7 linked regions of the Homo sapiens genome follow. The protein of the gene in region 2 interacts with the protein of the main gene of each other region in a pairwise test. Each region holds a gene or a part of one and is shown on either strand. Other genes may lie near its edges.

Region 1 (3,500 bases), on a different chromosome or scaffold from region 2:
GGAGGTCTACCGGCAGCAGAGGGAGGCCGTCCTCGGCAGGGCGGTCCCCGTGGTCTCCCGGACCACCCCTGGCATCGTGACCTTTGTCCCCAGTTCTGCACAGTCCGGGGTACATGCTGGGGTTGGGTTGGGGGGACTCGGCTCAGCCATGGGCCAGAGGCTTAGGCGCTCAGGTGCTGCCTCCAGCCCCCTGGTGTCCTCCAGGGAGTGGCCGGGCGAGGGCTGCAGCTGGGGGCTGGGGACTTCGTGGCGTCGCTGCCACTGCCTGTAGAAAGCCAGAGCTTCTGTGGATGCCTCCCTGGGGGAGGCCCTGGTGAGGTGCAGGGTCAGACCTGGGCGCCTTTGCCCCTGGGTGCAACGGGGCTCCGGAGGGACCCCCTTGCCTCTCACAGCCCCTGAAGTGGGACCCCGATTCCTGCAAGACTCTGGGGAAGCAGCCTGAGACCCCCAAGGGAGGTCAAGGCCTAGCTCTGAGGCTGAGAGAACGGGGCGTGTGGTCTTCCCGAGCGGGGGGCTCTGATGGCATTGCCCTCTACTTTAGGGCCTGGAAGCCTCCGGGAGCCTGGAGTCCCCAGTGCTGGAATGGAGCAAAGTGACCTCTGGCATGGTGCTGGGGGGCCAGGAAGCCCCAGGCAGGTGGGTGTGAAAGTGTGGGTGCTGCACATGCCGGGCGGGGCCTTGGGGGGGGCCAAGAACAGTTCTGGGTGCGTTCTGGGGCCCTCGTGACATTGCCTCATGACCGAGAGGCTCCTCAGGTGGGGCAGGCTCTGCCCTGCCCGCCCACAGTGCCACCTGCCTGCTTGGAGGAGGCGGTCACCACTGTGCTTGTTCTCATGGAGGCAAGAGTCGCATCAAACTTAAATCCACCACGTTAAAGTGCACGTTCCGTGGCATTGAGCACCTTCCCCGTGTGCTGTGCAACCACCACTTCTACTGAGTTCCGGAACATTCCATCTCCCCATGAGCCCCCACCCTCAGGAGGCAGCCCCTCCTGCAGCCCTTGTGGGGGAGCCATGGGGGTCTCCTTTCTGCCTCGACGGATTTGCCTATTCTTTTTTTTTTTTTTTTTTTTTTTTGAGATGGAGTTTTGCTCTGTTGCCCAGGCTGGAGCGCAATGGCACGATCTTGGCTCACCGCAACCTCCACCTCCCAGGTTCAAGTGATTCTCCTGCCTCAGCCTCCTGAGTAGCTGGGATTATAGGCACCTGCCACAACGCCCGGCTAATTTTTTGTATTTTTAGTAGAGACGGGGCTTCACCACATTGGCCAGGCTAGTCTCGAACTCCCAACCTCAGGTGATCCACCTGCTTTGGCCTCCCAAAGTGCTGGGATTATAGGAGTGAGTCACCGCGCCCCGCCCGGATTTGCCTATTCTTGACATTTTATCTAAATGGGATCACCAAGTACGGGTCTGGCTTCTCTCACCGAGGATAACGTTTTCCAGGCTCATTCAAGATAACGTTTTCCAGGCTCATTCATGTTGCAGCTTGAGTCAGAACTTCATTGAGTCTGTGGCTGAATAATGCCCGGCTGTGGGCAGGTGACCTTTTCTTCACAACCTCGTGGCCAACGGATGCCCGGGCTCCACCTGCCGCTGCCGTGAATGGGTGCTTGCACCTGCTTTGGCCCTTGAGCTGTTTCTCTTGGGTGCACACCTGAGAGTGAATTGCATGGGCACGTGCACCTCTGTGTGCAGCTTTCTCGGGAACTTGCACCCTGTTCTCCACAGCAGCCGCCCTGGTTCCCATCCCCCGGCCGGCGTGAGGGTCCCCATCTCCCCACTTCCTCACAGCGCTTACTTTTAGGTTCTTTTCTGTGTTTCTGTTTTGCTTTGACTACTGTGTATTTTAATTTCTGGAGGCCCCTCCCCCTGGGGCATCGTGAATCACACACATGGGGTCTGAAGACCTCCCCCAACTTTGCTTGGGGGAGTTGCGCCTGGGTCTCACTACAGTTTCCAGCCTGGCTCTCGCCCAGGAAGGGCTGTGGAAGGCCCCAGCTTCAGGCCAGTGGCAAACACTCTCTGGCCTGGCCTCACGCTAGGCACCTGTGAGGAGCTCACGGCCAGGCCTCCTGCATGCCCTGGGTTCCAGCGGGCAGGGGGAGCTGGCTCAGAGGCCAGGGAGGGGCTCCCACCCACCAGAGCGTCCCACCCTGGACTCCCTCAGGGCTGCCCCTGGCGTATCTTTGGCAGCTGGTATTGGGGGCTTCAGGCTGGCCCCTGGGAGCTCAGCTCCCACCCCTCTCTGCAGGACCCGACCCCTCCCTCTGGCTCCTTTTGGCTCCATTTTGTCTTGAAGGCACTCGTTTTGGGATTCTTTCCCGGGAGTCTGGGTCACAGGGCAGCCCAGGGGCTGCATCTGTCAATGTCCAGTAAGACAAGGACGCAGGTCCTGAGTATGCCGCTGGGTGAGCATCCCATGCTGGCCCCGCCATGCCACCCCCTTCCCAAGGGCAGCCCCTCCCCCACTGGCCACCGTCGGGCTCCGTTTGCTTGACAGCCTCCCGAGTAGCTGGGACTCGTCGTCTCGGGCAGCTGCAGGGCCTCATCTCACTTCATCATGTCCTTGTCCTTTTTTTTCCCCACCTAAAAAATTATAGCTGGGCATGGTGGCTCCCACCTGTAATCCCAGCACTTTGGGAGGCTGAGGTGGGAGGATTGCTTGAGGCCAGGAGTTTGAGACCGGCCTGGACAACATAGTGAGACCCTATCTCTATTTTCTCCAGAACTCTTCATCTTCCCAAACTGACACTCTGTCCCCATGAAACACTAACTCTCCATCTCCTCCCCAGCCCTTGGCAGCCACCATTCTACTTCCTGTCTCTATGGATTTGCCTGTCCCAGGACCCTCACGTGAGCAGGAACACGCCATGCTTGTCCTTTTTGTTACTGAAACACCAGGGGTTTGGTCTCAGTCTTGCTGCTTGCCACACAGAAGGCCAATCGCGGAGACAATGAGTATTGCCAGGGAAGAGGCTTTAATTGGGTGCCGCAGCCGAGGAGGTGGGGGCTCAGTCTCAAATCCAACTCCCTGACTGACTAAAGTTGGGGTCTTGCGTATCAGGGAAGGAATGCAGCTCCGTGCAGGAAACGGGAACTAGGGAAGGGTAAGGAAGCAAGCGTGATGAACGAGGACTCTGGCGTCTCATTGTCCAGTTGCGGTGATCTGGTGCGTTTCAGCTCCTTGATTCTATGTGGGAGGCCTGATGGTAGGTTTCCTGAGAAAGGAACTCAGGTAAGACAAATGAAACTTTCTCACATGTTAAGACCGGCCAGGCTCATTTCTATGTTTATTCAAAAGAAACCATGAACGTGAGTTCCAGGGGACCATCGGGCCAGTTTCATTTTGTGGCTGGCTGACTTATTCTACCAAGGGTGATGTTGTAGCCTGCGTCGGAATGTCCTTCCATTTCAGGGCTGAATACTATTCCGCCGTGTCGGTGGACCTCATTTTGCTTCTCCGTTCGTCCCTCGATGGACACTGGGTGGTTTCCACCTT
Region 2 (3,500 bases):
CAAGGAGACCAGCCAGCCTCTTGGTGGCAACTTGACTGCAATAGGTCCCTAGCACCTTGGAAAGGGCAATGCTGTATGCTTATCAGAATGGATATGAATTCTGCGTGTTTGCCTTTCCTGGCTGCACCACTATCTTAGGGCTCACAGAATCACTTATCTGCAGACATGAGAGAGACCCTGCTTAATAGTAAAGGTACCTACTTTATAGCAAAAGAGTATGGCAGTGGGGGCACGACCATGGTATCCACTGGTCCTAACCACACACAGCACTATCCAGAGGATGCTAACATGATAGAGCTTTGGGACGGCCTCTTGAGGGCAAAGCTGAGGCACCAGCTTGGAGATTATATCCTGTGAGGTTGGGGTGCCATTCTTCAGGATGTGGTATAGACTTTAAACCGATGGCTGTTTTATGGTTCTGTGTTTCCAATGGGTAGAATACATGGATCTGGGAACAAAAGGGAGGAAGTAGGAATGGCTTCACTCTCTATCACTTCTGTTAACCCACTTGGAGAATCTGTGCTTTCTGTCTATGTATCTTTAGGCTCTGTTGTTCTACAGGTCCTGGCTCTTAGAGGCGGAATGCTTCTACCAAGAGACCTGTAAGAGTCCCACCAAACTTAGAGCTTTGGCTCCCATGTGGTCACTTTGGGCTCCTCATGCCAACAGATCAGACACACAGAGTGGAGTTCCTATATTGGCAGAGGTAGCTGACCCTAAGTCATCCTGAAGAGTTAAGATTGCTACTGCATAACAGAGGCAGTGAGGAATGTGTTTGGTACTCTGATGATCCTCTGAGGCATCTTTTGGTACTCTCATGCCCAATTTTAATTTTAATTGGCAAATACAGAAACCATATCCTAATAAGGGCATGGACATTAGGGGCTCACCCCAAAAGAAAAGCCACCTGGATCAACAGAAGAGTTGGCTGACGGGGAGAGGAATCTAGAATGGGTGAGGCAGTGATAGGTGTCAGCGACCAATTGCAGCATGAGGGGCTGTGGCTTATCTCACTAACTTTCCTCTCAACAGTTTTTCCAGAAATTATGACCAGCAAGAATCGTGAAGAAGCTATGCCTGAATGGAAGCTATGGAAGAAGGTGGTTCTGAGTGGTGCAACAGGTTGACCATGGTGGTTGGTCCCCTACCCGGATCCCCTTCCCCAGGCTGATGCATCTCTCCTCTAGCTGGGTGGGTGTTGGCTACTAACAGCTCACAGCTGGCTCCTTTGGGGAACTGCCCTCCACCGAACTGGAGGCTCCTGCCTCACCTGGGAGGCTGCAGTCCCTCCTCTGCCCATTTGCTATCCTCTCTGAGGCAATGACTGATTGATGGACACAGGGGCGTAAAATACCAAACTTTTTGTTTGGTGAGAACAAATGCTGTGGTGCAATTCATGTGCCAAGCTTCCTGGGACACCAGGCTATACTAGTTTGTAGCTCAGACCACATCTTTGCTTAATTTTCCTCCCCTTCCCTAGCCTGTCTCCTTCACTCTCCTCCTGAAAATACTAAAATACTCCCTCGGTAAATCGCTTTCACAAGAATCTCATCTCAGATTCTAGGAAACCTGATCTCAGAGAGATGACTTCCTAGATTCTGGCCTGAGTGATTAGTGACACTCATGCCATTTACTGAGAAAGAGAAAAAGGTAAAGGAAGCCATTAAGAGTAAGATATTCTTTCTTTCTTTTTATGGATTGATTGATTGATTGATTGATTTAGAGACAGTGTCTTGCTCTATTGCCCAGGCTGGAGCACAGTGGTGCAACCACAGCTAACTCTTAACTTCCAGCTCCTGGGCTCAAGTGATCCTCCCACTTCAGCCTCCTGAGTAGGTGGGACTATAGGCACACACCACCACACCCAGCTCTTTTTTAAAAAAGTTTTTATAGAAACGGAGCCTCATTATGTTGCCCAGACTGGTCTTGAACTCTTGGGCTCAAGCAATCCCTCTTGCCTTGGCCTGAGATTGTAGGTGTGAGCCACAGCTCCTGGCCTCTTACTTATTTCTGATTCATCAGGTTCTAGCACAGATTCTAGGCCAGTGTGTTTTCAATAAAATTTTTTAGTTAGTTTATGAATGAAGAAAATGGATTCAATTTTGAATAATAATGAGTTTGAGGTGACTTGAGACTTAAACAGACTCAAGTAAACAGTGAGATATGTCAATCTAGGACTCAGAATATAGGTCTGAATCAGAGAGACAGACTTGGAAGTTATAGATGACAAGGCCATGAGATTGACTGAAATTATCCAAGATAGGCAAGTAAAAGGAAAAAAAGAAGTTAAAAGATGGAGCCCTGAAGAATCCTTCATGTCAGGCATCCACCCACATAGCATGTCCTTGACACTATCATCAATGAGAACTGCATTATTTACTAATTGAGATTTAAAGCAACCTATCCATCATCCTTCCAGCATGCTTAATCTAGTACTCCCACGCCAGCATTTCTCTGACCTCATTTAGACTCTTTACTTTTCACTATCCATCATCTTCCTCATACTCTCTCTTCCTAACTCTGCTTATTCCCGTCCATCTCATAACCATTCAGCAACTTGTCCCTCCCTGTATCTTGTCTCTATCCTCATTACCTGGTAAACCCCTGTATCTTGTCTCTATCCTAATAACCTGGTAAAACCCACCCCTAATTAAGCTGGCCCATCTGCCCGGGTCTTGCCTACACCTGAGCAGCTGAATGCTGGAGCCAACAGGTTGGGGGTAAATTACTGCATGGACTAGTTTCACTTTAAATTCATGACCATAAATATCATGTGGTCAGTGAACACTGCAAGGCGATTCTATTGCACTTCCCTAGTATGTTCACTTTCTTACTCATTACGTTGTGGCCTGGCTTCCTCCTAGGAGTCAGAGGGGAGCTCCCTCATTATTCCACATCCATTTGTATCTGTAGCTGAATTTTAGGCCATCCTCCTGTTTCAGAAACTCATCCTTCCTCCTATACTGCAGATCCTATTTCTTCTTACCTCTCAGTGACTTTGTTTCTGCAAATGAAAGAGGACCCTCCTTGAGCCCCATCCTCTTCATTATCAAACTTTCCTCCTGTCCTTCAGGATTCCCATTAGGTCACTCAATATTATGACCCAAGGCTTTGTATTGGGATGATTTCTTTTTTATACTTCAGTATTTTCATCCAGTTCTATAGACTTAAATACCAACCATATGCCGATTATTCCCACATTTGTATTTCCAGCTTTGATCTCTCCCTCGAATATCAGATTCACATATCCTATTGACTATTTAATGTCTACGTTTGGGTGTCTAGTAAACATTTTAAACTTATATGCCCAACCTAGAAATCATGATTACTCCTCTAACCCTATTTCTTCCCTAGTCTTCCCATGTCGGAAAGTGGTATTAGCATCTACTCAATGCTCAGGTTGAAATCCTAGGAGTCATCTTTAATCACTCTTTTCTCCCACTTCCCATAAACAATTCATTGTCAAGTCTGGTCTACACACCAGAATATTTCCTGGATCT
Region 3 (3,500 bases), on a different chromosome or scaffold from region 2:
AAACTAAAAATAAAGAAATAAGAAACTAGCCAGGCGTGGTGGCGCACGCCTGTAATCCCAGCTACTAGAGAGGCTGAGGTGGGAGAATCGCTTGAATCTAGGACACAGAGGCTGCAGTGAGTGGAGATCATAACATGGCACACCAGTCTGGTTAACAGAGCGAGACTCTGTCTCAAAAAAATAAATAATAAAAACATTTAAATTTTGTTTTAATTAACTGGGTGTGGTGGTGCACACCTGCAGTCCCTGCCTTTGCTCACATCCTTTTCCTTACCTGTGGAAATCTTTCTAGGCTGAATTCAATGGTAATGAATCTTTCGATGCTACCACCTCCACAAAGCCTTCCTTGTCCTCCCACCTATCTTTTTGTCCTCAGCTAGTAGTTATCATCTTCTAAGGTTTTACAAAGCACTGTTATTTTTTAGAGACAGGGTCTTGCTCTGTTGCCCAGGCTGGAGTGCAGTGGTGTGATCATAGCTCACTGCAGCCTGACCTCCTTGGCTTAAGCCATCCTCCTGCCTCAGCTTCCTGAGTAGCTGGGACTACAGGCGCAAACCACCACACCCAGCTAATTGTGTATTTTTTACTGAGATGTGGGTCTTGCCATGTTGCCCAGGCTGGTCTTGAACTCCTGGGCTCAAGCAATCTGCCCACTTAGGCCTCCCAACATTTTGAGAGTACAGGTGGGAGCCACCATGCCTGGCCAAAAAAAAAAATTTTTTTTAGAGATGGGGTCTCACTGTCACTCAGGCTGGAGTGCAGTGGCAAGATCTCAGCCCACTGCAGCTTGAACCTCCTGGGCTCAAGCAATCTTCCCACCTCAGCTGCCAAGTAGCTGGGATCACAGGTGCATGCCACTATACCCAGCTAATTTTTTGTATTTTTTGTAGAAACGGGGGTTTGCCATGTTGCCCAGGCTGATCTCAAACTCCTGAGCTCAGACAAGCTGCCCACTTTGGCCTCCCAAAGTGCAGGGATTACAGGCGTGAGCCACCATGCCCAGCCAAAAACTTTTTTTTTTTTTTTTTTTTTTTTGAGTCAGAGTCTCGCTCTGTCACCCAGGCTGTAGTGTAGTGGCGCAATCTCAGCTCACTGCAAACTTCGCCTCCTGGGTTCAAGGGATTCTCCTGCCTCAGCCTCCTGAGCTACTGGGATTACAGGCAACTGCCACCACGCCCAGCTAATTTTTGTATTTTTAGTAGAGATGGGTTTCACCACGTTGGCCAGGCTGGTCTTGAACTCCTGACCTCAGGTGATCCACCCGTCTCAGCCTCCCAAAGTGCTGGGATTATAGGGCTGAGCCACTGTGCCCGGCCCAAAAAAATGTTTTTAAAGAAGAAAATAAAAATATCCCACTAGTCAGAGATGTCCACTGCTGACCTGATATCTATCCTGTAGCCATGTCAACGTAGATAGAGATGCTTTTATGTTGTGAAGCATTTTGATTCGCCTCTTCATTTGGTAACTGTGTTAAGCATCTGCCTGGGGTCAGGCACAGTGAAGCTCTCGCCTTGTGCTGTGTGTGGCTGGGCCCACAGCACAGCATTAAGCCACCCTGTGCTTAGCCTGCTTGGCTGATGGGTGAGGACAGGCAGAGTGCGTAGCTGGCGATTCAGCGGCAGGGATGTTGCTGCTCTTTGGCCCTCCCAAGCTGCTAGCCTTGGTGCTGTTGGAGACCTGAGGGTTGGGAGGGCACCTGCTGGGTCCTTCTCTTGGGCAGAATCGTGCGGGCTGGGCCCTGGCAGTGCCTCCCAGGCACCCCTCATTTTGTGCCTCTTTGGGAAGGACGTGTCAGTGGCATAGTGTGGGAGACACTGGTGGGTTCATGCAGCTTCTCAGGGAGTGGCCAGGCGTGATCCTCAGGGCGGGAACCACGCTCTCAGTCCTGCCCTGGGCCCTACAGGAACGCTGGCGGGTGACTGCCGAGCAGTCCAAGGCGGAGTCCATGCAGCGCGCCCTAGAGGAGCAAAGGAAGGTCACGGCCCAGCAGATGGCCATGGAAAGGGCGGAGCTGGAACGGGCCAAGGTGAGTCAAGCCACCGCACTCAGCCCCTGCCCCTGCCATTATGCCCAGGGACACTCACCCCGTGCCTTCACCCCCACATCCCAGAGCGCCTTGCTGGAGGAGCAGAAGTCTGTCATGCTCAAGTGCGGGGAGGAGCGGCGGCGCCTGGCTGCCGAGTGGGCGGAGTTCTCCGCGCAGCAAAAGCTGAGTAAGGAGCGGGCCGAGCGCGAGGCCGAGCGGGCATTGCAGGTGGACACCCAGCGGGAGGGCACCCTCATCAGCCTGGCCAAGGTAGGGCCCAGAGCCTCCGGACAGTGGAGGGCCCAGGGTTGCCTGCGCCCCTCCATCTGGACACATCCGCTTCCAGTCTTAGGAAAGGAGAGTGTAGCACTAATGTCACAAGAGCATAGGGATTAAAACAGTAATCGCATCATCATGCTAACATCTTCCTCGTATTGTCCCAGGTGCATTATACACATTTTATTTGATCCTCATGTTCCCATGACTTTGGTCATTTAGAAATGAGGAAACCGAACTTCAGAGTTGAGCCTGCCACAGTCACGTGGCTTGTGAGGGCAGCACTCCGGCTTGGCCCCAGGCTTCTCTGGCTCTCCCTGGAAGCCCCTGGCTCCACCACCTCCTCCCAGGGGCAGGGTGGGCAGAGGGGACCCTAGAGTCCTGCACAGAGTGCAGCGCAATTCCTGGGAGGAGAATGCAGCAGGGCCTCCGCTGTCTCCAGGAGCAGGCTGAGCTGAAGATCAGGGCCAGCGAGCTCCGGGCCGAGGAGAAGCAGCTGGCAGCGGAGAGAGCAGCCCTGGAGCAGGAGCGGCAGGAGCTGCGGCTGGAGAAGGAGAGGATCAACGCCACCGCCCTGCGTGTCAAGCTCCGCGCCGAGGAGGTGGAGAGCATGAGCAAGGTGCTGCTCGGGCACATGGGCGTGGGCGCATCTGAGCCCAGGCAGCCCTGACCCAGGCGGCCTCCCTGCAGGTGGCCTCCGAGAAGTACGAGGAGGGGGAGCGGGCATTGCGCGAGGCCCAGCAGGTGCAGGCAGAGCAGCAGGCCCGGTTGCAGGCGGTGCAGCAACAGCAGGAGCGGCTGCGGAAGCAGGAGCAGCACATGCACCAGGCAAGGCTCCCTGAGTGTATGGCGCCCCTGCCCCCGGCACCCCCAGCCTCCCACCTCACAGCTGAGTCCTTCTTTCTGGGGGAACGGGGACAGGAGCATCTGAGTCTGGCCCAGCAGAGGCTGCAACTGGACCGCGCACGACAGGACCTGCCCTCTAGCCTCGTGGGTCTGTTCCCCAGGGCCCAGGGCCCTGCAGCCTCCAGCCAGAGTGGTGAGTGGCTCCAGAAGGAAGGGCCGGCGGCTCAGGACTGGGCAGGGGCAGTGCTAGGAGTGGGCAGGCCCTCCTCCAGCCGCTCCAGTTAAGGCGGCCAGCTGGGTTTTATAGTCGCCTTATTTCTTTTTTACACAAATAATGTGTGTTAATTTTAGA
Region 4 (3,269 bases), on a different chromosome or scaffold from region 2:
GGCCCATGGGCCCAGGCCAGCACGGAGGGGACTCATGCAGATGCAGAGGCCAAGCTCCCCAGGTGGGCCTGGCACGCCTCCCCGCAGGGCTCCTCCTCAGGCCATTCCTGCCACCCTGAGTCCTCTACCCCAGTGACCTGCATCAGGCTCCTCCTAGTGGTTCCCACAGGACACTGACCAGGCTGCGGCAGGCGCATACTTGCACTTCGGGCCTTCTCCCATGCTCTCCAGCCCCCAGCCCCACAAAGCAGGCTGGATGTGGTCCTCATGCCCTGGGGCTTGGATGGGGGCCCCTGTACAGATGGCAGTGACAGCATCCTGGGACCAGGGCTGGGGCAGGAAAGGCTGGAGGGTCCCAGTCTCCAGGCAGGGGGAGGGGTGGTGGGCTGGGCACACAGCCCAGGAAGGGGCCCCCAGGTAGAGGCCTCTGCTGCAACAGAGGTGGGGGCCCTACCAGGGCCCCGGTTATGGCAGAACCTGCAGCTATCACACAAGCCACATGCGGGCCACACTGAGGCATCTTTATTTCTCTGGGTCACACAGAGCTTGGGCCTGGGAGCCTCTTCTGCATGGGGGCTGCAGCTGCCAAGGGAGCGGCTGAGACCAGAACAAGCGCTCGAGTGGGCCCCAGTGCAGGTTGGGATGTGCCCGGTGGAGTAAGGTGTGAGAACCCCCAGCCTCACTCTCTGCCTGGCCCTGAAGCAGACAGCAGCAGGCTGGCCCAGCCTCCCCTTTATGAGACTATCCTAGGGTTTGACAGCAAGTCCCAGATGAAGGGTGACAGGCAGCTGGGGTCCACCTGGTCTCTCCTCAGCAGGGGGAACCCCCTGCGGGCAGCTGGGAAGGCAGTGGCCAAAGGTCAAGAAGATGAACTCTGCCCAGACTTCTGCTGCCTGTGGCTATGGTGGGACAGGGCTGCCTTTCTGGTCACACTGGGCAGCAGGCAACTGCCAGGGACCTCCTAGCCCCAGGGCTGCCTTCCCTGCCCAGCAGCCCCTCTGCTGCAGCTTCCGGATGAGTTCCAGCAGGTTCATCTGCAGCATCAGCTCCTGGGATACAGAGGGGCCCCATGAAGGCCAGAGTGACCCCCAGGCCCCTTTCATCCCGGCCCAAAGGTGCCAGGCAGTGAGCCCACGGGGCGACCATCCTGTGAAGCCTGGTCATGGCCTGCTACGACAGGGTGGAATCTGAGCTTCTGCCCCCAGCAGGGCCACTCGGAATCTGAGCCTCTGCCCCCAGCAGGGCCACTCGGAATCTGAGCCTCTGCACCCAGCAGGGCCACTTGGAATGGCATGCGGGAGGGGAGCAGAAGAGGGCCCTGTGGGGCACAGCAGGCCTGGGGAGGGTGGGCAGTGCCCATGGCTGGCTGGCTCACCCCCCTGTAGGGAATGGGCCTGGCCTCCATGCTGGGAATGGCACAGAAATCCTTTCCAGAGCCTCAATCCTTCCACTTCACCCCCTATACCCTGAGCCTGGCTCCCCAGGGACCAGCAGTGAAATCCCAGATGGAATGGGGCCCAGGGGCACTCGGGCTAGGACAGAGCAGGCCCAGGCACTGACCTGTGGGTTGGTGGTCACGTAGAAGCCAGCCACCCCCGCCTTCTCCAGTGTGCTCTGCTGGTCAGCCACCTTCCGGTCCAGCTCCAGGACGATCTTCTGGTCCATCGCCCGCTGCTCCTCACGGATCCGGTGCTCCACCGCCTGCCGTGGGGCCGGGGGCGGCGGGGGAGGTGAGGGCAGCTCAAACACATGCTCCTGCTGCTGTCCCCAACAGCACCAGCTCTGACACCACCAATGCATCCTCACCACACCCAGGCCTCTCCTCGGCCAAGTGAACCCCTGAAGGGGGCCCCAAGGGGCTTCCACGAATGCTTTGACTTGGGACTGCCTTGGGACCACACACACATCTCCGCAGGCACACCCTGCCCCATGACTTGTTGGTTACATGCCGGTCTCTGGTTGTCCCTGTGCTCCCGGGGAGAAGGATGGGCCCCTTCCTGGCTGGCCCCATCACCCCACCATTGCCTTTGTACCCCCCGAGGCCACCTGCTCTGCGGAGACCCCAACCCACGAGGGGCACTAATGGACTCCAGGGGAGCACTGGTGGGTTCTCACCCTCCACCCAGTCCCAGCACACCTGGCACCCTCAGCGAGGAGCCACCTGGTGGGACTCACTAGGCCTCCAGTGTCCCACTCAGGCCCAGGGTAGCCACCCACACCTGAGCCCCCCACACCCCTTCAGCTCAGCCCAGTCAGCAGAGCCAGGTGGTGCCCACAGGAGAGCTGGGCCGGCCACCCTGCCTGCGTCCCCAGTACCTCTAGTTCTCGCTGCTGAGCCGCCTGAAGCACAGGCAGGTTATGGGGCCGGCAGGCCTGCTGGGCTTCCTGGTGCTTCTGCCGCAGCGCCTGCCTGAGCACTGGGAGGGATGAGAGCCCGTCAGCAGGCGGTGGGACTCGGCAGCAGCCCTCACCCATGGGCACCTGCCTTACCAACCCAGCAGAGCAGCCAGGCCAAAGGGGTGTCTGCACTGGGGAGGACGCCAGCCTCCTCCATCCTCCCACCCCACTGTCACGGCAAGTCTCCAGGGGATTCCAGAAGGTGCGGGGCACTGAAAGAGAGTGGGGGTGGGGAAGACTGGCCAGGTGGGGCCAAAGCTGCAGCCCCAGACCCAGGGCAGCTGGAGGGGGCAGGCGGGAGGGAGGCTGCAGTCTGAGGGCTTCAGGGCCCCCGTGGCCACAGGCCATAGGACATCTACTCAAGTGTTGGAGACCACCTCAGGCAAAGGCATGGGAAAGGAGCAGGAGGAGCCGGGTCGCTGACCCTGAGCGTGGGGCCTCTGCCTACCAGGTGTGTGGTTGGCCCCTCCACCCTTGGTGCTGCCCTTCAGGGTGGGCAGCCCCCTCCCCCATTTGCAGCTCCCAGCCCCTACACAGCACCAGAGGGAGAAGGGTGAGCTGACCTGGGAGGCCCAAGTTTGGGATGAACCTGGGGTGTCATAAGCCTGTGAGGCTCTGGGCCAGGGAGTCTGTGTGGCTTTGAGGGGCTCACCCTCGGCCACCAAGCAAAGCTCCACGGTCCCTGCTAAACTGTGCACAAACACAGATGTGCAAACTCTAGTCTGAAGGGAGTGTACAGAGGAAGCGATCATGGGACATAAACCATCATGGCAAAATGGAACATGGAGCACCCCGCAGCTGGCGCCAGTGCATTAAGTGCCAAATGGCTACAGTTCCCCAGGAAGGAGGGGTCCCTGGCCACAACAAAACGT
Region 5 (4,085 bases), on a different chromosome or scaffold from region 2:
ATGGGTAAATAAGGTGAATAGACATCCCTCAAAAGGAGACATACAAATGGCCAAGTATATGAAAAAATGCTCAACATCACTAATCAGGGAAATGCAAATCAAAACCACAATGAGATATAATTTCACCTCAGTTAGGATGGCTATTACCAAAGATAAAAAATAAAAAATGCTGCTGAGAACATGGAAAAGGGGGAACTCTTATATATGGCTGGTAGGAATGCTAATTAGTATAGCCATATGGAAAACAGTATGAATGTTCCTCAAAAATCTAAAACTATAGCCAGGCACGGTGGTGTGTGCCTGTAGTCCCAGCTACTCAGGAGGCTGAGGTGCAGGACTGCTTGAGCCCAGGAGTCTGAGACCAGCCTGAATAACACAGCAAGACCCCATTTTAAAAAATGAAAAATAAACAAAAGTTAAAAATACAACTACCATATGATCCACTGGTAATGATCTATACCACTACTGGGCATATATGCAAAAACAAATATATCTATACGTCAAAGAGAGATCTACACTCCTATGTTTATTGAAGCACTATTCATAATAGCTAAGAAATCAGTCTAAGTGTCCATTATCAGATGAATGAAGAAAGAAAACATGGCATATATACACAATGGAATACTACTCAGCCATGAAAAATAAACCTGTCATTCACAGCAACATGAATGAGCTTGAAAGACATTAAGTGAAATAAGCTAGACACAGAAAGAGAAATACTCCATGTTTCTACTCATATGCAAGCATAAAAGGTTGAGAATGGTGGTAACCAGAGGCTGGGAAGGACAGCAGAGAGGCAGATAGAGATTGGTTAACAAATACAAAATTACAGCAAGTAAGATTCCATTTGAATAAGTTGTAGTGTTCTGTGGCACTGCAGAATGAGTACAATTGGCAATAATACATTTTATATTTTCAAATAGCTAGAAAAGCAGACTGTGAATGTTTCTAAACACAAAGAAATGATAAATGATTGAGATGGATATGCTAATTACCCTGATTTGATCATTACTCTTAGCACACATGTATTGAAATATCACACCAAACCCCATAAACATTGTCAATTAAAAACAATAAAAGAAACAAAAAGAATACCAAAAGAGAAATTCCAAAATATTCTGATTAAACATATTAATTACTACGACTGGACTCAATCCATGGTGACAACTACCTGCATATACATATGCAGGTTCACCTGTTAAAATTCCAGTCACTTTATGTATAGTCAGCCTTCACACAATCTTCTGTAAGACTGAAAAATGAGATTCCTTCTCTGTGTTTATTTTCTGAGTTTATCATAATCTTTTAACTTACTTTAGCTACATGTCTTATTTCATTTTTGGTTCCAAATTGACCTCTAGAAAATTGTTGAGGTGAATTTTGAACTATTTACTCTCTCTAAAGAGCAGTAAAAAAGCTGAGAAACCACAATCAGAGGGAAGAATTAGGACTCCCTGGATTACATTATGTACAAACAGCTACAATATCATCTCCATCCTACAGAAAAATAAAGAAGAAATTGACAAGTAGATCCAGATCAAGAAAAAAGTATGGTACTGGGTGGTTAAAGACACACGGAGAAACAATTTTTTTAAAAAAGTCAAAGCGTCTGAAGTGTGCAGTAAAATGTGCCCATTCATATGTACATCCTTTATCTCCTTAAATGTAAAAGTATTTCATAACTCAAGCCTCCATCTTTCTCATAAAGATATATGCTTCTGCTCCTCAAGAGTGGAGACAATGCTGTGGAACAAAGCAGGCTTTCACAAAATGTTTTCAAACAAACCGTTTGTCTACAGCACTGGACAGCAGTGAATGTATACACAGGGAAAATAAAGGGGATGAGGCCCTTTTGTTTCTGAAACATTTCCCTCTCCCAAATAAAATAAGGAGGGGATGACAAATTGCCATGGGCTTGTCAGGGAAGTCTGAAAGAAGCTGTGCTTCCATTTCTTTCTCTTCCCTATGACTCCTCCTCCTTTGTTTGAATGTCCCTGAGATAACATTTCACTGTAAACTAATAAGAAAGATGTGGCTGAAGGTTTTCCTAAGTGCACAGTAACCACTGGGTCTCTTTCATGGGTGAATTATCAGATGTAGAATAAGACTCTTGGCTGTGTCAATTTCTAACATAATTGTTTAGATGACAAATGATGATCTAAAACAGGTTTTCCCACAGAGATGATACTTATGGAGTTTCTCTTCAGTATGAATGACCAGATGGTAAGATGTTTCCTCTCACCACAGATTTTCTTCAGTGGTTATATTAAAAAACTATTTCGCTAATAGGAATTCTTGGATGTTGACTGAAGTGTACGTAAAAAGTCTTTCCACATCTGTTACAATGGTAGGGTTTCTTCCACTATGAATCCGTTGATGTCGAGTGAGGAGGAATGAGCGGCAATTGAAGGCGTTTCCATATTCACTGCACTCACTGGGCTACTCTCAGTGTGGATGATGGAGTGTTGAATGAGATCTGTGCTCTCACAAGAAACGTTCCCACTCTGGATGGGTTCGTGGGACTTCTCTGCAGTGTGAATCCGCTGGTGCCTTGTGAGGGGTGACCTGCGGTTGAAGGCCTTCCCGCACTCCACGCATTCATAGGGCTTCTCTCCAGTGTGGATGCTAAAGTGTCGAATCAGGTTTGTGGTCCGACAAAAGGCTTTCCCACATTGGATGCATACATACGGCTTCTCTCCAGTATGAATCCACTGGTGCCTTGTGAGCCCTGACATGCGGGTAAAAGCCTTTCCACACTGTAAACACTCATAGGGCTTCTCTCCAGTGTGGATGTTGAAGTGTCGAATGAGGTCTTTTCGAATGCTAAAGGCTTTCCCACATTCTTTGCACTCAAAAGGCTTTTCTCCAGTGTGGGCTCTTTCATGCAGGACATAGGTGGAATAGTGAGTGAAGGCCTTTCCACATTGACTGCACACAAAGGGCTTCTCACCAGTGTGAATCCGCTCATGCTGCTTGAGGTGTGACCTGCAGTTGAAGGCCTTCCCACACTCAAGGCACTTAAAGGGCCTCTCCCCAGTATGGATAATGAAGTGTTGAATGAGGGCTGTACTCTCATAAAAGCCTTTTCCACATTCGCTGCATGCGAAGGGTTTCTTCTCATTGTGGCTCTTGTTATGCAAGACAAAATTGGAGCGGTAGGTAAAGGCCTTTCCACATTCATTGCACACAAAAGGCTTCTCTCCACTGTGAACCCGCTGGTGCCGTGTAAGGTGCGACCCGCGATTGAAGGTCCTTCCACATTCACTGCACACAAAGGGCTTATCTCCATTGTGAGTCCGCTGGTGCCGTGTGAGGTGTGACCTGCGGTTGAAGTCTTTCCCACACTCCAGGCATTTATAGGGCTTCTCCCCAGTATGGATGATGTGATGCTGAAGGAGGTGTTTGCTCTTGCCGAAGGCTTTCCCACATTCTGGGCAATCATAGGGCTTCACACGAGGGAGAATCTGCTCATGCTGAACAAGGAAGCAATTCTCATTAAACATTTCCTCGAATTTATAGGAATTTTCCCCTTCATGAATCAAGGAATCTGTAACTGGTCCATATGAGTCAAATCCATAGAGAGCATCTTCTGGTGAGACTTGGTTCTGTATCATCATTGAACAAATACCATCAGCTGTCGCCAAACCTTCGTGTTCAAGGCTCATTTTCCCATGGAGTTTCTCACTCTGTGGGTCTGTCCCTGGTCTCAAAAAGTATTCCTGCATTTCAGATGGCCCATCTTGATCCATGGCCTGCCCCAAATAGGAGTATCTTGGGACTCCCTGTGCCAGCTGTTCCTGGAGTGAGACTTCCTCAGGCAAGGCCAGATGAGAAGGGATAGGCTCTACGGTCTCAGGTTTTGTGCTGTCACCTGAAGGGAACACAATACACAAAAGAACTTATTAAGATAGTACAGAAGAAATGAAACCACCTTTTTGGTGAGAACAATAAGATGAAAATAGTGATGATTTGAAAATAGCTATGATTTGATGGGCTGGGTACAGTGGCTCATCCCTGTAATCCCAGCACTTTGGGAGGCCAAGGCAGGCGGATCACTTGAGGTCAGGAGTTTGAGACCAGCCTGG
Region 6 (3,933 bases), on a different chromosome or scaffold from region 2:
TGTTCCTGGGTCAGACTTTGACATAGGCTGCTCTGGGGCCTATTTCCATCCCTGGGCTTCCAGCAGCCCGCACTTTCCCGGAGCACCTTGATGGGGGAAAAGCTTTCACGATGTCAGCTGGAGTGAGAATCAACACCAAGGGAAGAAACCCTCTGTCCCCAAGGCCCTCTTAGTTCCCCCACATGAGAGAAGACAGGGAGGAGACAGATGTCTGCATGGGCCAGCCTTCACCACTAAGGACGGTAAGGGTACACAGGGTACAACAGCGTCGGGGAGCAGGACCTCTCCCTCCCCACGGTGCTCACAGAATAATGAACAACCGGATCCGCACCATGGACTGAGAAGACGAACTGCCTTTGTTTCAGAGGAAGAGTTCTCCAGCTGCTCTGTGGATCACAGAGCCCACATGGGAGAGGCAGAGGCAGGGAGGCCAGGGAGGTGACCAGGGAGCTCAGTGCCCTAAGGAGAAGGACATGGAGCGAATACTCAGAGGCCCGGAGTGAAACACAGTGCACTTTATTGGCGACAGACCGGAGGGGCGGAGGGGGCTGTGTGCTATATACATCAGAGCTGTAGTGAGCATCCCACCCAGGGAGGGGACTCCGGGGCAGCAGAAGGTGGCGGCCTAGGCCACACCTGGACAATCACAGGCACAGGCTGGAGCCGGAGAGAAGAGCCTGAAATTCTCGTGACTGGGCTTGGCCGGGGATCTGGAAGGAGGAGCAAGAGGCCACAAGCCTTCCAGCGCAGAGCCGCGTTCTTGGGGAGCATGGGGTGGCGCTGGGGGTGTTGCCAATATGGGGGCGTGGGGAGCGGAGGGGAGGCGCTGGAGTGGCTGCGATGCTGATGCGTGCTCTTTATCTGGAGTAGCGCTGGGAGGACTGGGAGGACTGGGAGAACTTGATGCTGCCGCCCCGGTTGCTGGCCGAGCTGAAGCCCCCGCCACTGACTCCATAGCGGGCGCCAGAGATGGAGCCAAAGCCGCTGCCACCGCTGAAACCGCTGCTGCCGCCGCCAAATCCACCGCCGATTCCACCGCCGCCTCCCCGGCCAAAGCCACTGCCTGAGCCGCCGCCCGCACTGAAGCCACCTCCTAAACCACCGCCCATGCCTCCGCCGTAACCTCCTCCATAGCCACCTGCGGAGGCGGAAGTCGTGCTGCTGCTGACCACGGCTGTGGGGGAGAGGACAGGACAGCGATCAGCGACGGCGCCCAGGCCAGCTGCTATGTTATTGTCAATGATCCACCGGGCCCACGACTATCCAGAGCTGATCAAGGCAGCTTTGCACAGGATGTTCACCACGAGCCGTTCCAAGGCCACTAGCTACTCACTCCCCTGCCGTTAAGCCATTATGAATTAGCCAGTGGTTCCTCCCACAGTACAGTCTTGATGACCCCCTTGGAGGGGATCTAGCGTCTGAATTTATCCTCCTATCAAGAGGCCCCCTGTTGGATATTCCACATTGGCCGTCGAAGCCTATTAAAAGTGCCCTGAACCCAGAACAATTACAAAAGCCAATCACTTCCCTCTCCTCTCCCAGAAAACCCCTCCAACTTCCGTAAAAATATGTTTAAATTAGTTGCTACTACCCTGGATTAGTGCAGATATTTCAGAATTAACTCTCATTTTCTTAGCTACTTTCGGTACTTACAGATGCTGACAGCACTCGGACACTCTCCAGACATCCTGTTTGAGAAAGCAAGAGAAAGTGGGCCCCGTCACAAAGCACATCACCAACAAGTCCACGGACCAAGGGCATGAATAGCAACCAGAGCTGAACAGAGAAGCCTGGCAAATCAGGTAAGCTTTCTCCACCCCTCTTTGGGCTGTAGCAAGGAGAGCCTGTGGGCACTGGTTGCATACGTGCCCTGGGAGGGAGTGGGCTGGTAGAGGCAAATGCTTCACCACAAGGCCTCTCTTTATACAGCAGGGCTCCATCCCCAGTTACTTGGTCACTTATCTGGCCCTTGGCCTATGACTTGAGCCAGGGGGTGTGGGAAGACGGGACTGGAGGCTCACCTGTACTCCTCGCCCTCCAGCAGCTTGCGGTAGGTGGCGATCTCCACGTCCAGGGCCAGCTTGACATTCATCAGCTCCTGGTAGTCACGTAGCAGCCGCGCCAGGTCATCCTTCGCCTGCTGTAGAGCAGCCTGCAGCTCTTGGAGCTTGGCATTGGCATCCTTGAGGGCCATCTCTCCATGCTGCTCGGCCTCGGCAATGGCCGTCTGCAGGTTGGCATTCTGGGGCAAGGGAGGTAGGAGGAATGAGCTCAGTAAGAGGGCCCCAGGCCCTTCCTGACATGCAATGGATTATCCCATCTTAAAGTCAGGGAACATTCCTCCTCCCCTAGTGCCTCCATCTTGTCTCCATTTGTGGAGATACTGCCCTGTGGGTCAGCCAGCCTGAGATGACCTCCAGACGTCTATTCCAGGGGAGGAGTCCTGAGATCCTAGCCCCTGCCCCTCAGCAATCATCCCAGGTGCCAGCATCCATGACCATCCCACCTGCTTCTTGACACCCTCGATCTCTGCCCGCAGCCTCTGGATCATTCTGTTGAGCTCTATGATCTCGCTCTTGGTATTTCTTAGGTCATCCCCATGCCTGCCAGCCGTGGTCTGCAGCTCCCCCAACTGCAGAACAGAAGGGAAGATGGGGTATTCCTGCAGCTTTGCTTGACTTGTTTCTACACCTCCAACATCACCCACCAAACCTTCAGAAGCTCAGTAAGGCATTTGCTAAAATGATACTGCATTGTGTTTCAGCAGGGAAACCCCCAAGGCAGCAGGAAAGAGAACATCTGGGTTGTTGTGGTAGAAGATTTTCCTACCCTGTAGTTCCTGAGCAAGTTGGAGTCAGTCCCACATAGCAGGCAACCATCTCCCCCAGGGGCAAGACTTTCTGCAACTGAACCACCATTAGAAGGATGACTTCAGAGGGTAAAACCAAAAGGCATTCACCCAGTGACCACTGGGAACTCACTACCCAGCTGTCCAATAGGCCATGGCCTCTCTGAAACCTCCAGTGGATCCCGTAAGAGGTGACTAGCACCCACCTTGGTCTGGTACAGGGCCTCAGCTTCGGCCTTGCTTCTCTGAGCGATATCCTCATACTGTGCACGAACTTCAGCAATGATGCTGTCCAGGTCCAGGGAGCGATTATTGTCCATGGACAGCACCACAGATGTGTCACTGATGTGGCTCTGCATCTGAGATAGCTCCTGTCAACACAGAGGGAGCTTGTTCACTTTTGGGGTCCCTGTAACAAGCACACAGGGCCCTGAAAGACTCTTGATCAACAGTCTCATTCACTGATTCCTTGCTCCACATGTGTATCAGCCACACCCTGTCCGCAGCCACTCAGAGAACCCCATGTCTGCAGCTTATCCTGTGGAATCCCTTCCAAGGGTCCTCATCTCCAGGCTCATTCCAGATGTCTTCTGGGGCCTATATACCAAAATGCACCAGCCTCAAATCTGGAAACACCTCACTCTCCCTCTGTCCCTTCTTAGTAGGTAACATCCTTACAGCGTCGTAGAGGGTCCTTAAGAAGTCGATCTCATCTATCAAGGCATCCACTTTGGCCTGAAGCTCCACCTTGTTCATATAGGCACTGTCCACATCCTGAGAAAAGAGGAAGATAAAGGCCTTATTCTCCCAATGAACAAACAGCAAACCACAACTGCAGCAAGAAAGAGCAGAGGGGACTGGTGCAGTGATGGTCCTTGTCTAAGACCAGTCTCCACTTGAACGGGCAATTTGTATCTCATTAGGATGGTCTAAGTTTAATCCTACTAAAAAACTAAAGACTGATGAACTAACTCTTTTAGGGATCTTCCAGACTAAGGTGCACCTGACTTCTGTTTATTGCTCCAAAGGCCTGAACTTGGCAGCTCTGTGGCAGTGGAGTGAGGAGATTCCCCCAACCCAGCCAG
Region 7 (3,323 bases), on a different chromosome or scaffold from region 2:
TTTGGCCAGGGACCCCTCCCTCCTGGGGAGCTGTAGCCATTTGGCACTTACTGGTCACTGGCGCCAGCTGTGGGGTGCTGCATGTTCTGTTTCATGGTGGTTTATGTCCCATGATCGCTTCCTCTGTACATTCCCTTCAGACCAGACAGTTTGCACACATCTGTGTTTGTGCACAGTTTAGCAAGGACCGTGGAGCTTTACTTGATGGCTGAGGGTGAGCCCCTCAGAGCCACACAGGCTTATGGCACCCCAAGCTCATCCCAAACTTGGGCCTCCCAGGTCTGCCCACCCTTCTCCCTCTGGCGCTGTGCGGGGGCTGGGAGCTGCAAATGAGGGAGGGGCTGTCTACCCTGAAGGGCAGCACTGAGGGTGGAGGGCCCGACCACACCCCTGGTAGGCAGAGGCCCCACGCTCAGGGTCAGCGACCCCGCTCCTCCTGCTCCTTTCCCATGCCTTTGCCTGAGGTGGTCTCTGACACTTGAGTAGATGTCTCATGGCCTGTGGCCATGGGGGCCCTGAAGCCCTCAGACTGCAGCCTCCCTCCCGCCTGCCTCCTCCAGCTGCCCTGGGTCTGGGGCTGCAGCTTTGGCCCCACCTGGCCAGTCTTCCCCACCCCACTCTTTCAGTGCCCCGCACCTTCTGGAGTCCCCTGGAGACTTGCCACCAGATAAGGGCCCGGCCCTGGGTGACAGTGGGGTGGGAGGATGGAGGAGGCTGGCATCCTCCCCACTGCAGACACCCCTTTGGCCTGGCTGCTCTGCTGGGCTGGCAAGGCAGGTGCCCATGGGTGAGGGCTGCTGCCGAGTCCCACCGCCTGCTGACGGGCTCTCATCCCTCCCAGTGCTCAGGCAGGCGCTGCGGCAGAAGCACCAGGAAGCCCAGCAGGCCTGCCGGCCCCACAACCTGCCTGTGGTTCAGGCGGCTCAGCAGCGAGAACTAGAGGTACTGGGGGCGCAGGCAGGGTGGCCGGCCCAGCTCTCCTGTGGGCACCACCTGGCTCTGCTGACTGGGCTGAGCTGAAGGGGTGTGGGGGCTCAGGCATGGGTGGCTGTCCTGGGCCTGAGTGGGACACTGGAGGCCTAGTGAGTCCCACCAGGTGGCTCCTCTTTGCGGATACCAAGTGTGCTGGGGCTGGGTGGAGGTTGAGAACCCACCAGTGCTCCCCTGGATAGCAGCTCCTCGTGGGTTTGGGCCTCCACAGAGCAGGTGGCCTCAGGGGGGTACAAAGGCAATGGTAGGGTGTTGGGGCCAGGAAGGGGCCCATCCTTCTCCCAGGGAGCACAGGGACAACCAGAGACTGGCATGTAACCAACAAGCCGTGGGGCAGGGTGTGCCTGTGGAGATGTGTGTGTGGTCCTAAGGCAGTCCCAAGCCAGGGCATTCGTGGAAGCCCCTTGGGGCCCCCTTCAGGGGTTCACATGGCCGAGGAGAGGCCTGGGTGTGGTGAGGATGCACCGGTGGTGTCAGAGCTGCTGCCACTGGGGACGGCAGCAGGAGCATGTGTTTGAGCTGCCCTCACCTCCCCGCCCCCTGATGGCAGAGCTGCCCTCACCTCTCCCCCTCCGCGCCCTGGCCCCATGGCAGGCCGTGGAACACCGGATCCGTGAGGAGCAGCGGGCGATGGACCAGAAGATCATCCTGGAGCTGGACCGGAAGGTGGCTGACCAGCAGAGCACACTGGAGAAGGCGGGGGTGGCTGGCTTCTACGTGACCACCAACCCACAGGTCAGTGCCTGGGCCTGCTCTGCCCTAGCCCGAGTGCCCCGGGGCCCCATTCCATCTGGGGTTTTACTGCTGGTCCCTGGGGAGCCAGGCTCAGGGTATGGGGGTGAAGTGGAAGGATTGAGGCTCTGGAAAGGATTTCTGTGCCATTCCCAGCACGGAGGCCAGGCCCATTCCCTACAGGAGGGTGAGCCAGCCAGCCATGGGCACTGCCCACCCTCTCCAGGCCTGCTGTGCCACACAGGGCCCTCTTCTGCTCCCCTCCCGCATGCCATTCCGAGTGGCCCTGCTGGGGGCAGAGGCTCAGATTCCGAGTGGCCCTGCTGGGGGCAGAGGCTCAGATTCCGAGTGGCCCTGTTGGGGGCAGAAGCTCAGATTCCACCCTGTCCTGGCAGGCCATGACCAGGCTTCACAGGATGGTCGCCCCCGTGGGCTCACTGCCTGGCACCCTTGGGCCGGGATGAAAGGGGCCTGGGGGTCACTCTGGCCTTCATGGGGCCCCTCTGTATCCCAGGAGCTGATGCTGCAGATGAACCTGCTGGAACTCATCCGAAAGCTGCAGCAGAGGGGCTGCCGGGCAGGGAATGCAGCCCTGGGACTGGGAGGTCCCTGGCAGTCGCCTGCTGCCCAGTGTGACCAGAAAGGCAGCCCTGTCCCACCATAGCCACAGGCAGCAGAAGTCTGGGCAGAGTTCATCTTCTTGACCTTTGGCCACTGCCTTCCCAGCTGCCCGCAGGGGGTTCCCCCTGCTGAGGAGAGACCAGGTGGACCCCAGCTGCCTGTCACCCTTCATCTGGGACTTGCTGTCAAACCCTAGGATAGTCTCATAAAGGGGAGGCTGGGCCAGCCTGCTGCTGTCTGCTTCAGGACCAGGCAGAGAGTGAGGCTGGGGGTTCTCACACCTTACTCCACCGGGCACATCCCAACCTGCACTGGGGCCCACCCGAGCGCTTGTTCTGGTCTCAGCCGCTCCCTTGGCAGCTGCAGCCCCCATGCAGAAGAGGCTCCCAGGCCCAAGCTCTGTGTGACCCAGAGAAATAAAGATGCCTCAGTGTGGCCCAAATGTGGCTTGTGTGATAGCTGCAGGTTCTGCCATAACCGGGGCCCTGGTAGGGCCCCCACCTCTGTTGCAGCAGAGGCCTCTACCTGGGGGCCCCTTCCTGGGCTGTGTGCCCAGCCCACCACCCCTCCCCCTGCCTGGAGACTGGGACCCTCCAGCCTTTCCTGCCCCAGCCCTGGTCCCAGGATGCTGTCACTGCCATCTGTACAGGGGCCCCCATCCAAGCCCCAGGGCATGAGGACCACATCCAGCCTGCTTTGTGGGGCTGGGGGCTGGAGAGCATGGGAGAAGGCCCGGAGTGCAAGTATGCGCCTGCCGCAGCCTGGTCAGTGTCCTGTGGGAACCACTAGGAGGAGCCTGATGCAGGTCACTGGGATAGAGGACTCAGGGTGGCAGGAATGGCCTGAGGAGGAGCCCTGCGGGGAGGCATGCCAGGGCCACCTGGGGAGCTTGGCTTCTGCATCTGCATGAGTCCCCTCCGTGCTGGCCTGGGCCCATGGGCCCTGCTGGGTCCTTGTGGAGTCAGGGTTGGGGGTGTCCA

The links.
Region 1: the proteins of DEUP1 (region 2) and CCDC187 interact in a two-hybrid assay, tested with the Homo sapiens proteins (one large-scale study listed by BioGRID).
Region 3: the proteins of DEUP1 (region 2) and FBF1 interact in binary tests that used the Homo sapiens proteins (3 or more experiments, as listed by UniProt).
Region 4: the proteins of DEUP1 (region 2) and DGCR6 interact in a two-hybrid assay, tested with the Homo sapiens proteins (one large-scale study listed by BioGRID).
Region 5: the proteins of DEUP1 (region 2) and ZNF460 interact in binary tests that used the Homo sapiens proteins (3 or more experiments, as listed by UniProt).
Region 6: the proteins of DEUP1 (region 2) and KRT3 interact in binary tests that used the Homo sapiens proteins (3 or more experiments, as listed by UniProt).
Region 7: the proteins of DEUP1 (region 2) and DGCR6L interact in binary tests that used the Homo sapiens proteins (3 or more experiments, as listed by UniProt).

What each region holds. Positions count from the first base shown.
Region 1 is NC_000009.12:136,287,095-136,290,594, reverse strand, and holds part of CCDC187 (coiled-coil domain-containing protein 187), read left to right. Parts: coding exon 1-109; intron 110-541; coding exon 542-636; intron 637-3,274; exon of another isoform or gene 3,275-3,500.
Region 2 is NC_000011.10:93,431,742-93,435,241, reverse strand, and holds part of DEUP1 (deuterosome assembly protein 1), read right to left. Parts: intron 3,005-3,500; coding exon of another isoform or gene 2,990-3,004; exon of another isoform or gene 2,737-2,989; intron 449-2,736; exon of another isoform or gene 202-448; intron 1-201. UniProt on the Homo sapiens protein: Key structural component of the deuterosome, a structure that promotes de novo centriole amplification in multiciliated cells.
Region 3 is NC_000017.11:75,913,543-75,917,042, reverse strand, and holds part of FBF1 (fas-binding factor 1), read left to right. Parts: intron 1-1,903; coding exon 1,904-2,026; intron 2,027-2,110; coding exon 2,111-2,296; intron 2,297-2,744; coding exon 2,745-2,921; intron 2,922-2,992; coding exon 2,993-3,130; intron 3,131-3,223; coding exon 3,224-3,341; intron 3,342-3,500. UniProt on the Homo sapiens protein: Keratin-binding protein required for epithelial cell polarization. Involved in apical junction complex (AJC) assembly via its interaction with PARD3. Required for ciliogenesis.
Region 4 is NC_000022.11:18,909,320-18,912,588, reverse strand, and holds the end of DGCR6 (protein DGCR6), read right to left. Parts: intron 2,610-3,269; coding exon of another isoform or gene 2,491-2,609; intron 2,418-2,490; coding exon 2,317-2,417; intron 1,702-2,316; coding exon 1,561-1,701; intron 1,050-1,560; coding exon 900-1,049; 3' UTR 501-899; downstream 1-500. UniProt on the Homo sapiens protein: May play a role in neural crest cell migration into the third and fourth pharyngeal pouches.
Region 5 is NC_000019.10:57,290,485-57,294,569, reverse strand, and holds the end of ZNF460 (zinc finger protein 460), read right to left. Parts: intron 3,872-4,085; coding exon 2,340-3,871; 3' UTR 501-2,339; downstream 1-500. UniProt on the Homo sapiens protein: May be involved in transcriptional regulation.
Region 6 is NC_000012.12:52,789,185-52,793,117, forward strand, and holds the end of KRT3 (keratin, type II cytoskeletal 3), read right to left. Parts: intron 3,623-3,933; coding exon 3,527-3,622; intron 3,220-3,526; coding exon 3,055-3,219; intron 2,633-3,054; coding exon 2,507-2,632; intron 2,243-2,506; coding exon 2,022-2,242; intron 1,689-2,021; coding exon 1,654-1,688; intron 1,175-1,653; coding exon 858-1,174; 3' UTR 501-857; downstream 1-500.
Region 7 is NC_000022.11:20,313,738-20,317,060, reverse strand, and holds the end of DGCR6L (protein DGCR6L), read left to right. Parts: intron 1-841; coding exon 842-942; intron 943-1,584; coding exon 1,585-1,725; intron 1,726-2,236; coding exon 2,237-2,386; 3' UTR 2,387-2,823; downstream 2,824-3,323. UniProt on the Homo sapiens protein: May play a role in neural crest cell migration into the third and fourth pharyngeal pouches.